Linked DNA regions of Homo sapiens: region 1 is linked to region 2. The links come from fine-mapping of genetic effects on gene expression. A gene starts in region 2. The other region holds a variant in brackets. All regions are shown on one strand. Distances are from middle to middle. Region 1 overlaps SEC11A (SEC11 homolog A, signal peptidase complex subunit). Region 2 holds the start of ZNF592 (zinc finger protein 592).

The links. PIP is the estimated chance that this variant, and not a neighbour inherited with it, causes the effect. A credible set is the group of variants that fine-mapping cannot tell apart.
Region 1: its variant is the best candidate, but not a certain one, in a credible set for the expression of ZNF592 in stomach (GTEx, PIP 0.66).

The regions. Positions count from the first base shown.
Region 1 is chr15:84,665,704-84,671,031 of GRCh38, reverse strand. SEC11A (SEC11 homolog A, signal peptidase complex subunit) reads left to right here. Exons shown (of 6, transcript NM_014300.4): 5 at 250-307; 6 at 963-1,488. The coding sequence ends at 1,013. Among named protein-coding and RNA genes, the nearest start is that of NMB, 10 kb to the right of the region's middle. The variant T/C (reference allele first, on the strand shown) is at 3,010.
Region 2 is chr15:84,746,105-84,751,480 of GRCh38, reverse strand. ZNF592 (zinc finger protein 592) reads right to left here and starts at 2,889. Exons shown (of 11, transcript NM_014630.3): 1 at 2,817-2,889. RefSeq lists enhancers at 1,918-1,997, 2,526-3,365, 3,438-3,737 and silencers at 2,398-2,887, 2,948-3,367.

The DNA of each region.
Region 1 (5,328 bases), 80 kb after region 2:
GTGCTGGTTCTGCCACACAGAAACCATGTACCTTGGGCATGATCATCTGTTTCCTCATCTCTAAAATGGTGATATTCCTAACTTTCCTATCACTTGGGCTTTTGCAAGGATCAAATAGGGCAGTATATAGAAATGGACTTTGTGAATTGAAAATTAGTATTCTATAGAAGATATTGATAATATTCAGTGAGTGACAACAGCTGCTTTACATCGGAAATTCTGTGATAATCAGTTTTTTGTTTGTTTTAGATTTGTTCCTTATATTGGAATTGTGACGATCCTCATGAATGACTATCCTAAATTTAAGGTAAGAGTCTGTATTATTTGTTTTATTAAAAAATGTAATCTTTTGGGCCAGGCACAGTGGCTCAAGCCTGTAATCCCAGCACTCTGGGAGGCCGAGGTGAGTGGATCGCTTGAGCCCAGGAGTTCAAGACCAGCCTGGGCAACATAGCGAAACCCCGTCTCTATTAAAAAAAAAAAAAAATTATTAGCCTGGGCGCAGTGGCTCACGCCTGTAATCCCAGCACTTTGGGAGGCTGAGGCAGGCAGATCACCTGAGGTCAGGAGTTCGAGAACAGCCTGGTCAATATGACAAAACCCTGTCTTTACTAAAAATACAAAAAAATTAGCCAGGAATGGTGGTACACACCTGTAATCCCAGCTACTGGGGAGGCTGAGGCACGAGAATTGCTTGAATATGATAGGTGGAGGTTGCTGCTGCACTCCAGCCTGGGTGACAAAGTGAGACTGTCTCAAAAAAAAAAAAAAAAGAAAATTATTTAAAGAAATGTGATATTTTGCTTAGTATTGGAAACTTTTAAATGGATTATAGTTAAAAGATGAAAGAATAATTGGGTAGTTTAGCGATATATTCACAAAGACCAATTTGTTAATTAACTCTTAGAACCTCTGAACTTTTCAACGCTTCTCTGACTTGTGGTTCTGTGTTTATTTTCTAGTATGCAGTTCTCTTTTTGCTGGGTTTATTCGTGCTGGTTCATCGTGAGTAAGAAGCCTGCCTTGCTGTTCCTGGGAAGATGCCATAGTTTTCGTTACTGGATGTTTGGAGTAGATACTGGTCTGTGATTGGTGGAATGGAGAACACACGTGTTGGTGCTTCTGGGTAGCACTGGTTTGCATTAGTTTATGTTTCCATGCCAGAGTTTGTGTGGGCGGGCGCATGTGCACCACAGAGTGCACTCGAGGGGACTTTCAGTCACAGGATTTCATAATTGTCATTGTCACACTTTCAAATTTTTGTACATCAGTGAATTTTTTTATATTAAAAGGTTGAGCCAAAGCCCCCAGTGTTTGTATTTTGAAGCCAAGCTTCACTTCTAAAGTGCCTACAGAGACTTGTAAATGAAAATGCAGCTCTGCACGAGTTTGAAACCGTCATACCTCCTTCTATTAGGAATGGCATATACTGAGGTGGTCGTAAGTCTTAACTTCTAAAATTTTAAATAAAAGACTTTGCACATTGAACCCCTTATCCCTGAATTGTGTTTGTCGGGAAAGCTTCTGAAATTTGCCTTCCTTGGCTGGTTCTTAGTACCCCTGGGGGATATAAAGGCTTGGTGTGAACAGTCCTTCAGCTAAGAAGGTTGCTCTGATACTAACAACTAGTTTTTTTGTTTGTCTGTTTTGCGTGTGTGTGTGTGTGTGTGTGTGTGTGTGTGTGTGTGAAGCAAAAGTAGCCACTGACAGTCATAGGAAATCTCTTAGTCATAAAATTGATTCTTCCCATGACTCAGATGTGTATAAAACCCAGCTAGTGTTGCTGAGAGGTTCAGAAAATCTCACTTGGTTATAAAAAGTCATAACCCTTTCTACACTTGAGACATTTCAGTCCTTTCTACACCAAGGCAGTGTGCATTAGCATCTAGAGGCAGAGGAAAGGGCTGGAGGACAAGCATTCTGCTTGGCGTCTTTAAAGTCTCATTTGTCTGAACCTGTTCTCTCAAGTGCCTGACTTTGCATTTCTCTAATGCAGACTTAAAGCAAGCAGTTTAAAGTAGTGAGTGCACAACCCAATTGTATGTTTTCTTTTAATATCAAGGCAGTGAGGGAAATAGGGAGTATAGAGTAAACCAATATCTTTTGAGCACAAAATACACTTAATTCTATCTGTTCTCTTGTTGTATTAATGTGAAATCTTAAAGTGAGTTTTCTGTGTTAGGCTACTTGAACAGTTTCTATTATTTGTTCAACTGCAGTGGAAATCAGTCTATGCCGTAATGCTAATGGCATGAGAACAGGGACAATTACTCTTCTGAAGCCCTCCCCTGTGGAGAATAGTACCTTCCTAAACCCATTAACCAGGCTTTAGCCTTCCAACTTTGGATATGGGCTCTTAATATTCTCAACAGAGTATGAAACTTGGCAAATCACTGCTAACAAATGCTTTTTTGAACCTGTCTGTGAGGCGTATATAGTACTTATATTTTCTCATGAACCAGAAGCTGAACATTCCCTGTGTGGAATAGCAGGAAATTGCCATTTATTCCATTTTTTCCCCCCTCATCACCTGTGGAAGATGCAGTTCACTGCTCAGCCTAATCAGTACACTGGTTTTTGTACCAGCCTTTCTAGGACTACTCTAGGGGAGAAGCAGTGTGCTTTGCTGGCCAAGGTTGGGATCCTAGGGTTCTCTGTGATCCTAGCTTGCCTGAATGTAAACATCCTTGTACTTGTATCTTCATCTACTCCAGATTTCTCCTTATAAATGTATTGGGAAGAAAACATTAATACTTTTTTCCCTTGCATATATTCGCAACCAGTTTTATATAAGTATTATTTTTCCTCCTTTCCTGGATGCTGTAGTTGCAAGCAACAACTAAGTTTCTCTGAAAAGGTAATCAAATCATTTAATAATATTTGAATCACTCCATTAGCCAAAAATAAAAAGATTACTTGTGGGGAGGGGTATTATATTCCCAATTTTTATCTTGTCTAGTTTAGTGCTAAACATAAGACTTAAAATGGGAGATTTTATTAGCAAATATA[T/C]CCTAAAAGCTCTTTGCAAATGTAAGAAATGCCAGAGAGGTTTTATTTGCTAATTGAATGGCGTGATAAGCTCTTTGAGATTTGGCAGGGCAAGTGGAGAATTGGGAGGGCTCAACCATTGTGAGTGAAAGGAATTGAACAAGAGTATGAAAATTGATCAAACTTCAAATGAGAAATTGATAATGGGATTATCTCTTTGGCTGTTACTTGTCTGCTCTTATACCGCCTGCTAATCAATCTTTTTAAATTATTTCCAATGTCTGTCCTCAGTTCTAGTTCCATGTCTCCCTTTCCTCTGGACACTTCCACTTGATTGTCCCGTCTTTAAACTCAAGTTCCTGAAAACTTCCCCTCCATATTTCATGTTTTCTGTGAAGGAATATTCACCTAGATTTGTCATTTCCCTACCATATCTAGCCACGTACTAAGTCCTCCATTTACCCCATCATTCCATTCTCATTGCCATCACCTGAATCCAGAAATACTTATTCAGTGGCTCCCTGTTGCTTGTGTACTGGTCACCCTGCAGTGTGCCAGTCTGTGCCTGTTTTGGATAATTACCACCTGTTATTAATACTTAGTTTTAGCCTGCCTTTTACTTTCAGAAATGCTTCTTGTTTGGACCATAAATTTTGTGTTCATACTACCCTTTCCCTACATTGAATTCAAACTTTGAATTCCACCAACAGTAAGCATCCTTATGAGTGCAAACATCCTTGTACTTATGTCCTCATCTATCCAATCCCTCCTCCTTATACACTTATTGGGAGGAAGACATTAATACTTTACTCACTCGGGCTGGGCGTGGTGGGTCATGCCTGTAATCCCAGCGCTTTGGGAGGCCGAGGTGGGTGGATCACTTGATGTCAGGAGTTTGAGACCAGCCTGGCCAACATGGTGAAACCCTGTCTCTACTAAAAATACAAAAATTAGCTGGCCCTGATGGCATGTGCCTGTAATCCCAGCTACTTGGGAGGTGGAGGCAGGGGAATGGCTTGAACCTGGAAGGCAGAGGTTGCAGATTGTGCCACTGCATTCCACCCTGGGTGACAGAGACTCTATCTCAGAAAAAAAAAAAAAAAAAAATTTCATTCACAACCAGTTGTGTAAAAGTATTATTTTTCCTCCTTTGCTGAGTGTTTCCACTTGTATTATGTCATCTTATTTCTGTTTATCTGAGTCTTACCGTCTTCACAAGTTCTGCTGTCACTCAGCATTTGCACCCTCACACTGTTTGTTTAAATTTGTGGATATGGCCTCGAGGTCCTTGGCAGATTGTAAGCTCCTCCAGGACAGGAGCCCCATTTCATAGACACTGTTCTGTCTTTCCTCAGTAGCCTGAAACAGCATCTATTAAATGTTCAGTACGATCATGCATTGTAGTCAGAGGCAGTAGCTTCAGTTAGCATTGTTGTTGAGCTGTTATTTGGAGGCAGAGCATATGAATCATTAAAGTGATCTGTACTTTCCTGTTATTTAGTAAGTACATTTTCTTGGTCTTGCCAAATTTGAATCTGAAAACTTTCTCTCTCCATGGTTCCATTTAAACAGCATGTACCCTTCCCAGATTTTTAACTGTTAATCCTGCTTCCTTCTTTTTTGTGTGTGTCCTTAGGCTTAGGCTGTTGTGTCTTCTTTCTTGATGGGAGAAGTATTGGCATGTATCATTTTTCTTAAGGAATCACAGGCTTCCTTCTTAGAGACCCAGGGCTTGGAATAGAGAAATTCTCTGTTATCCTGAGTACATTTCTTAGTATTTGCATAAGCCTTTTACCAAGTCTAGCTAACCTCTCAGAACGTGGCATGGAGGCTGATTTCAGAATCTGAGGGCTGGGCCTCTTCTTATGACATTTTCCACTGTTAAACTTCAGAGATGACCCAGCTGGTTCTAGCTAGGTAAATGGATGTCTACCTTCATCAAGCAGCTCTTTCACTCAGGATGGCCTGTTCAGGTTGTTTTGTAGCCAGGTATATCTTCACCACTACTGTCTCTTGCTAGAACAGTAAGTAATACAAGGTAGGCTTTCAGAAGTAAAATAGCAAATATGACCCTTCACACACAACTATGGTGGGTGTGAAGCCACCATAGTTATTGCCATTCAATTAGCAAATAAAACCTCTCTGGATATAGAAAGAATGCTGTGTAACCAAAAAGCATTATCAAAACTAGAATGCGCAGGGCTTACCAAAAAATGGTGAAGATGTTGCCTTCCATGTGTCATTCTAGGTCCTAAGGATTTTTCCAGCTGCACTCTCACCAGACATCACATTCTTGCACCCTGGACGTTGGTCTTACGGTACAGACATTCTGTCTTTGTT
Region 2 (5,376 bases):
TGTGAGCAAACTGAGGCACAAGAGAGGCTAAATAACTCAAGATCATTGGTTAGCAAGTGACAGGAGCAAAATGCAAACTTCAGTGGTCTGGCTCCAGAGCCAGTGGGCTCTGAATTCAGGCAGACGTGCTTTGAATCCAGGCTATGTTACAAATGTGGCTTTGAATAAGTCATCTATCCCCTCTGCATTTATTTCTTTGTAAAATGGGTATGATAACCTCTTTTTCTTAGGGTGTAGAGAGGACTAAGTTAAATACAATAATGTATGCAGAAGTCTTTAAAATTGGTTCTCCCACCTGGCAGGTACTCCATAAATGTTAATTCATTTTTGCCTTCCCTTCCTAAAAGCTGGATGAAGCAGACTCACAGAGGCAAAGGATCTCCCCCAGACTGCTTGAGGCTTTTCCAAACAGATCAGGTAGTTAAGCCACTCAACCCAGAAAGCCTTGCCTTACCTGCTTATCTCAAAAGTCCATTCCCTGCACAGGGGCTAGACACCTTTTAAAATGTAAATATCATGTCATTCCCTTAAACCCTTCAAAGGTTCCTAATTACACTGGAGATACAAACCAAACTAAGGAGGGAGGCATTCTGCCCCCAAGGCCCCATTGCTCTAATTTGGCCCTAGTCTCCAGACTAATCTCCCCTCTCCCTTTCCCCCTCCAGCCCCACAGGCCTCTTTCACTTCCTCCTTGCTACAGTCAGCTCCACACATGGTTAACTCTTAACCCTCCTTCAGATCTTGGCCTAAACATCACTTCCCCAGGGAAGGCTTCCCTGAGCCCCCAACTCAAATCGGTCTCTTACCCCTCTCTTCAGCTTTCTCTTCTTATATTCACTATAGTTTGAATTATTAGTTTACCACTTCCAAGTTTTACTCGAAAGACACCTTCTTAGGAAGCCTTCCCAGGCCACCGTATAATATAAATTCAACTACCACCCCTGATACCTCAGATTCTCCTTCCCTGCTTCCTTCTTCTCCTTAGCATTTCACACTTTTTAACAGACTATATTTTTGTTATATATTTTATTTATTGTCTTCTCCCCCACTCCCAGGAAAGCACCACAAGGGCAATCATTTTTGCTTTCTTTGTTCACTGCATCTAGAACAATGCCTAACACGTATTTGTTGACAAATATTTGTTGTTGAATAAATTTCCACGACTATTTATTTATTTTGAGATGGAGTCTCACTCTGTAGCCCAAGCTAGAGTGCAACGGCACGATCTCAGGTCACTGCAACCTCCGCCTCCCGGGTTCAAGCAATTATCGTGCCTCAGCCTCCCAAGTAGCTGGGATTACAGGCATGCACCACCACACCCGGCTAATTTTGTATTTTTTTAGTGGAGACGGGGTTTCACCATGTTGGTCAGGCTGGTCTCGAACTCCTGATCTCAGGCGATCCACCCGCCTCGGCCTCCCAAAGTGCTGGGATTACAGGCGCGAGCCACCGCGCCCGGCCACGACTATTAATTATTAGACTTTCCCAATGGCTAAGAACTAAAACATGGTATCTTTCTGGCTTACCAATGTACTCCCAACACCTAGCTCAGTGCCTGGCACAGAGTAAGTGCTCAGTAAAAATTTATTTAATGAATCAAAGCCACAACTAGTTGAAAAATTGGAAAATGATCAAAATGGACGCACTAGCACCACACTTCTGCCCCTTTCACTGTGTAACGTAACAGTGAGGTTGAGGAAACAGACTACTAAAATACCACCAAGCATCCACCAGGCCAGGAATCTGTCTGTCCACATCCTCCGCACTCTGCCACACTGTGCACCACACTGCACCCGCGACAGAAGCACCCTACAGGCCCTCCATGAGCACAGGCCTGAACTCAAGTGGGCAAACCATAAGCCAAATACCGTCTTACTCCCCAAGTCCCATTCTTCTACTGCCAGTCCTATTCTAGACTAGTCCTGGATGCCAAACATGCTTCCCTGGGTGGGCCTGTGGACTTATTCCAATCCAGGACCTTTAATGCCACCTTTGGCCTACTCAAAAAATGGTTTAAAATCCCTAAACAGCTTCAATAATCCTGCAGTACTCAGGAGCAGGCATACCTAAGGTCATACGGACCCCTCCCCCTCACAAACGCTGATCCAAGGCCAGGAGGCCATCTGTCCAGCAGACGCTCTCCTGTCCTCCCTCAGGTCACACTGAGCCTCCCGCCAACCCCCTCGTTGGCAGGAAGAGCCCTTGCAGAGAGACAATTTTCACCCTGATCAACAGGCCTGGTCACCCCTGAGGACCCCAACTCTGGAGCTCTAGGAATACCTGTCTGCTCCGGGAGAAACCTTCCTCAGGGTCAGAACTTGGGCTCAGGGGAGGGGAGTACTGAGGAGCGCCAAAGAGGGTCGTTCCCCGAAGTGTCTGCCCTGTGACGGCGACAGCTCTTCGGGCGGCGGGGACGGTCGGGCTGACAGGCCGTCCCAGAGGGAGAAAGTGGCACCGTTATCCGTGCCCGGGCTGGGGGCCGCCGGCTATCGCCGAGGGCGGCCGCACGTCCCGCCCAGCGCGGAGGACAGCAGCGTGCCCGGCCTGCCAAGGAGCGGCGGTCGCAGCGGCGGTCGCAGCGGCGGAAGGGGCCGGCGCCCGACGGCCGGGGGCGGGGTGGGGTGGCGGCCCGGGCCCGCCAGGCGGCGGTCGGGGGAAGTGGCTGCCGCCTCTGGCGGCGGCCAGGGTCCGCCAGGCTGCAGGGCCGGGCCCCGGCTCGGGCTCGGACTCGGTCCCGGCTGCGATCCTCCCGGGCCCAGGCTGGGGCTGCCCCGGCCCGCAGGCCCCGCTCGGCCCGGCCCGCGGGGGGCGCTTACCTGGCGGCGGCGGCGGCGACTGCAGGCCAGAGTCTCGGCCGCGCGCGTCCCCAGCGCCGGCTGCGGGAGCCACAACATGGCGACGGCGATGGCGGGCGGGGCTGCGGCTCCGGGGGCGGAGCGGGGGCGGGAGCCGGCCTGGCGGCGGGACCTGGCTGGGGCTGCCGCGGCGGGGGATTGGGGGGGGGGGGGGGCAGGCGGAAGGCGACTCGGACCTGGGCACCGGCCCAGGACGGTGCGGTGGAGGGGCTGCCCCGGCCTGGGCCCGGCCTCCCGCCTCCCGCCTCCCGCCCGAGGCGGGCTGCGCGGCGCAGGCCCGGCGACGGCGACGACGGCGGCGGCGGGTAGGGCGGGGCGGGACGCGACGGGACGGGGCGGGGCGGGGACGGCGCCGCTCAGGGCTGGACCCCCGACCCCGGCCGGCCCCCGCCCGGCTCCAGTCCCCGCCACCCGTGCTAGGCACCCTGTGCGGTCGGGCAGGCAGCCGCTGCCAGCGACCTGGGCCTCTTGTCCTCTGACGCGCCTCGGGGCAGGGGCAGGGGCCGAGGCCGCCCACTAGAGGAACAGGATCTGCCTACGCAGCTGTCTCGCCCGGCAAAGAGCGCCCAGGACCCGGGACTGCGTCCTCTTCACTGAGACCTGGCGCATAGGGGGCCTAGTCGAGGCTGTTAAGTGAAAGCAAGCAGGGGTGGCGTGGGCCTGGCGCTCAGGTGCGCCCTAAATGTTTGGTCATAGCTGGCTACAAGGACATTCGCGCAGGCTTGGAGGTGCGGGGCAGCCTGACGTGTTGCCTCTGGGGTAACCGAGGGACGCGCGGCAAACAGAGATGGAGGACTGGCAACGGGTGCCTCGAAGAGGTAGACTGGGAGATCTCTCAGGGTTACTGGGGAAACGATGACTGTGCAGGGTGAGAACTCAGTGAGTCTGGCAGAAGGCTGGGAGGGTGACCGGCAGGACCTTCCAAGAACCCGGCGTACCTGGAAACTGGGTCCGCAGCATTAGGGCGGCAGCAAGGTCAGGGTGTGGGAACACGGAGATGAGGCCCTGGTGACTAGGAGTGAGCACACACTGCTAACCATGGAGAAATTCCTTCTCCAGGAAGGAGATGCAAATGTGCAAGATGGCTGGAACTAACATGCAGCCGGAGCCTGCTGTGCACCAGGCACAGAACTGAGTTGAAGAGCTTGTCTAAAGAGTATGTTAGCCAATGAAGCAATGGAGTTAATAAAGGGTGATGATTTCAAATGTTTGGCAGTGAGAGAGAGAAAAGTAGGCCTGGAGCTCAAGAAGTACCAAGAGTAAAGGAGAAAGTTGGGTCCTACTGTGGAAGCTGAGGCAAAAGCATCCCTTAAGCCGAGAAGTTTGAGTTCAGCCTGGGCAACATAGCGAGACCCTCCCTCTCTGCAAAAGAGTAAAGGGAAAAGTTGATTGTTTTTTGTTTTTTTTTTTTGTCTTTGGAGACGGAGTTTCGGTCTCGCAGCCCAGGCTGTAGTGCAATTGCGTGGTCTCGGCTCACTGCAACCTCTACCTCCAGAGTTCCAGTGATAATCCAGCCTCAGCCTTCAAAGTAGCTGGAATTACAGGCGCACGCCACCATGCCTGGCTTTTTTTTTTTTTTTTTTTTTTTTTTTTTTTGAGAGAGAGTTTCGCTCTTGTTGCCCAGGCTGCAGTGCAATGGCACAATCTCGGCTCACTGCAACCTCTGCCTCCTGGGTTCAACCGATTCTCCTGCCTCAGCCTCCCGAGTAGCTGGGATTACAGGCATGCGCCACCATGCCTGACTAATTTTGTATTTTTAGTGGAAATGGGGTTTCAACATGTTGGTCAGGCTGGTCTCAAACTCCTGAACTCAGGTCATCCACCCGCCTCGGCCTCCGAAAGTGCTGGGATTACATGCATGAGCCACCGCACCCGGCCCTAATTTTTGTATTTTTAGTAGAGATGGGGGTTCGCCATGTTGGCCAGGCTGGTCTCGAACTCCTGACCTAAGGTGATCCACCTGCCTTAGCCTCCCAAAGTGTTGGAATTACAGGCATGAGCCACCATGCCTGGCCGGTGATTTTTTTTTTTTTTTTCCTAACTTGAGTGGGGAGACCTTAACTAAAGGAGCTGAGAGGGGAGAATGGCAGATAGATGTAGGATAATTGATGGTGCAAGAAACCAGAAAAGGAAAAGTAGATGGGAAGGGGGAAAGGGGTGAGCAAAAAGTCAGAGAAGTCCGCCTCTTCCTACAAGATTTAAAGAGTGCATAAAGATTGAAATATTTTGAGGTAGGGAGGCATGCATGCTTCCATGGATCAGCTGCCTGGATTACCCTCTACAATCATCCTTAGGGCAGCTGGGGTCACTGTCCTTTAAAATTTAAGTACAATTGACTCCAAACCTGTGTACCACTTAAGAAACCCAGCATACCTGCCAATATCTCCAGAGTTTCATTGGGAACTTACATTTCTCCTAATTATCTCAGGCCCTAATTTCTTGTTTGCAAAAAATATTGTGCTCTTTGGAAGATTTGTCACCATATCCCAGATATTAGTCCATTTATATTACCTCAAAATAT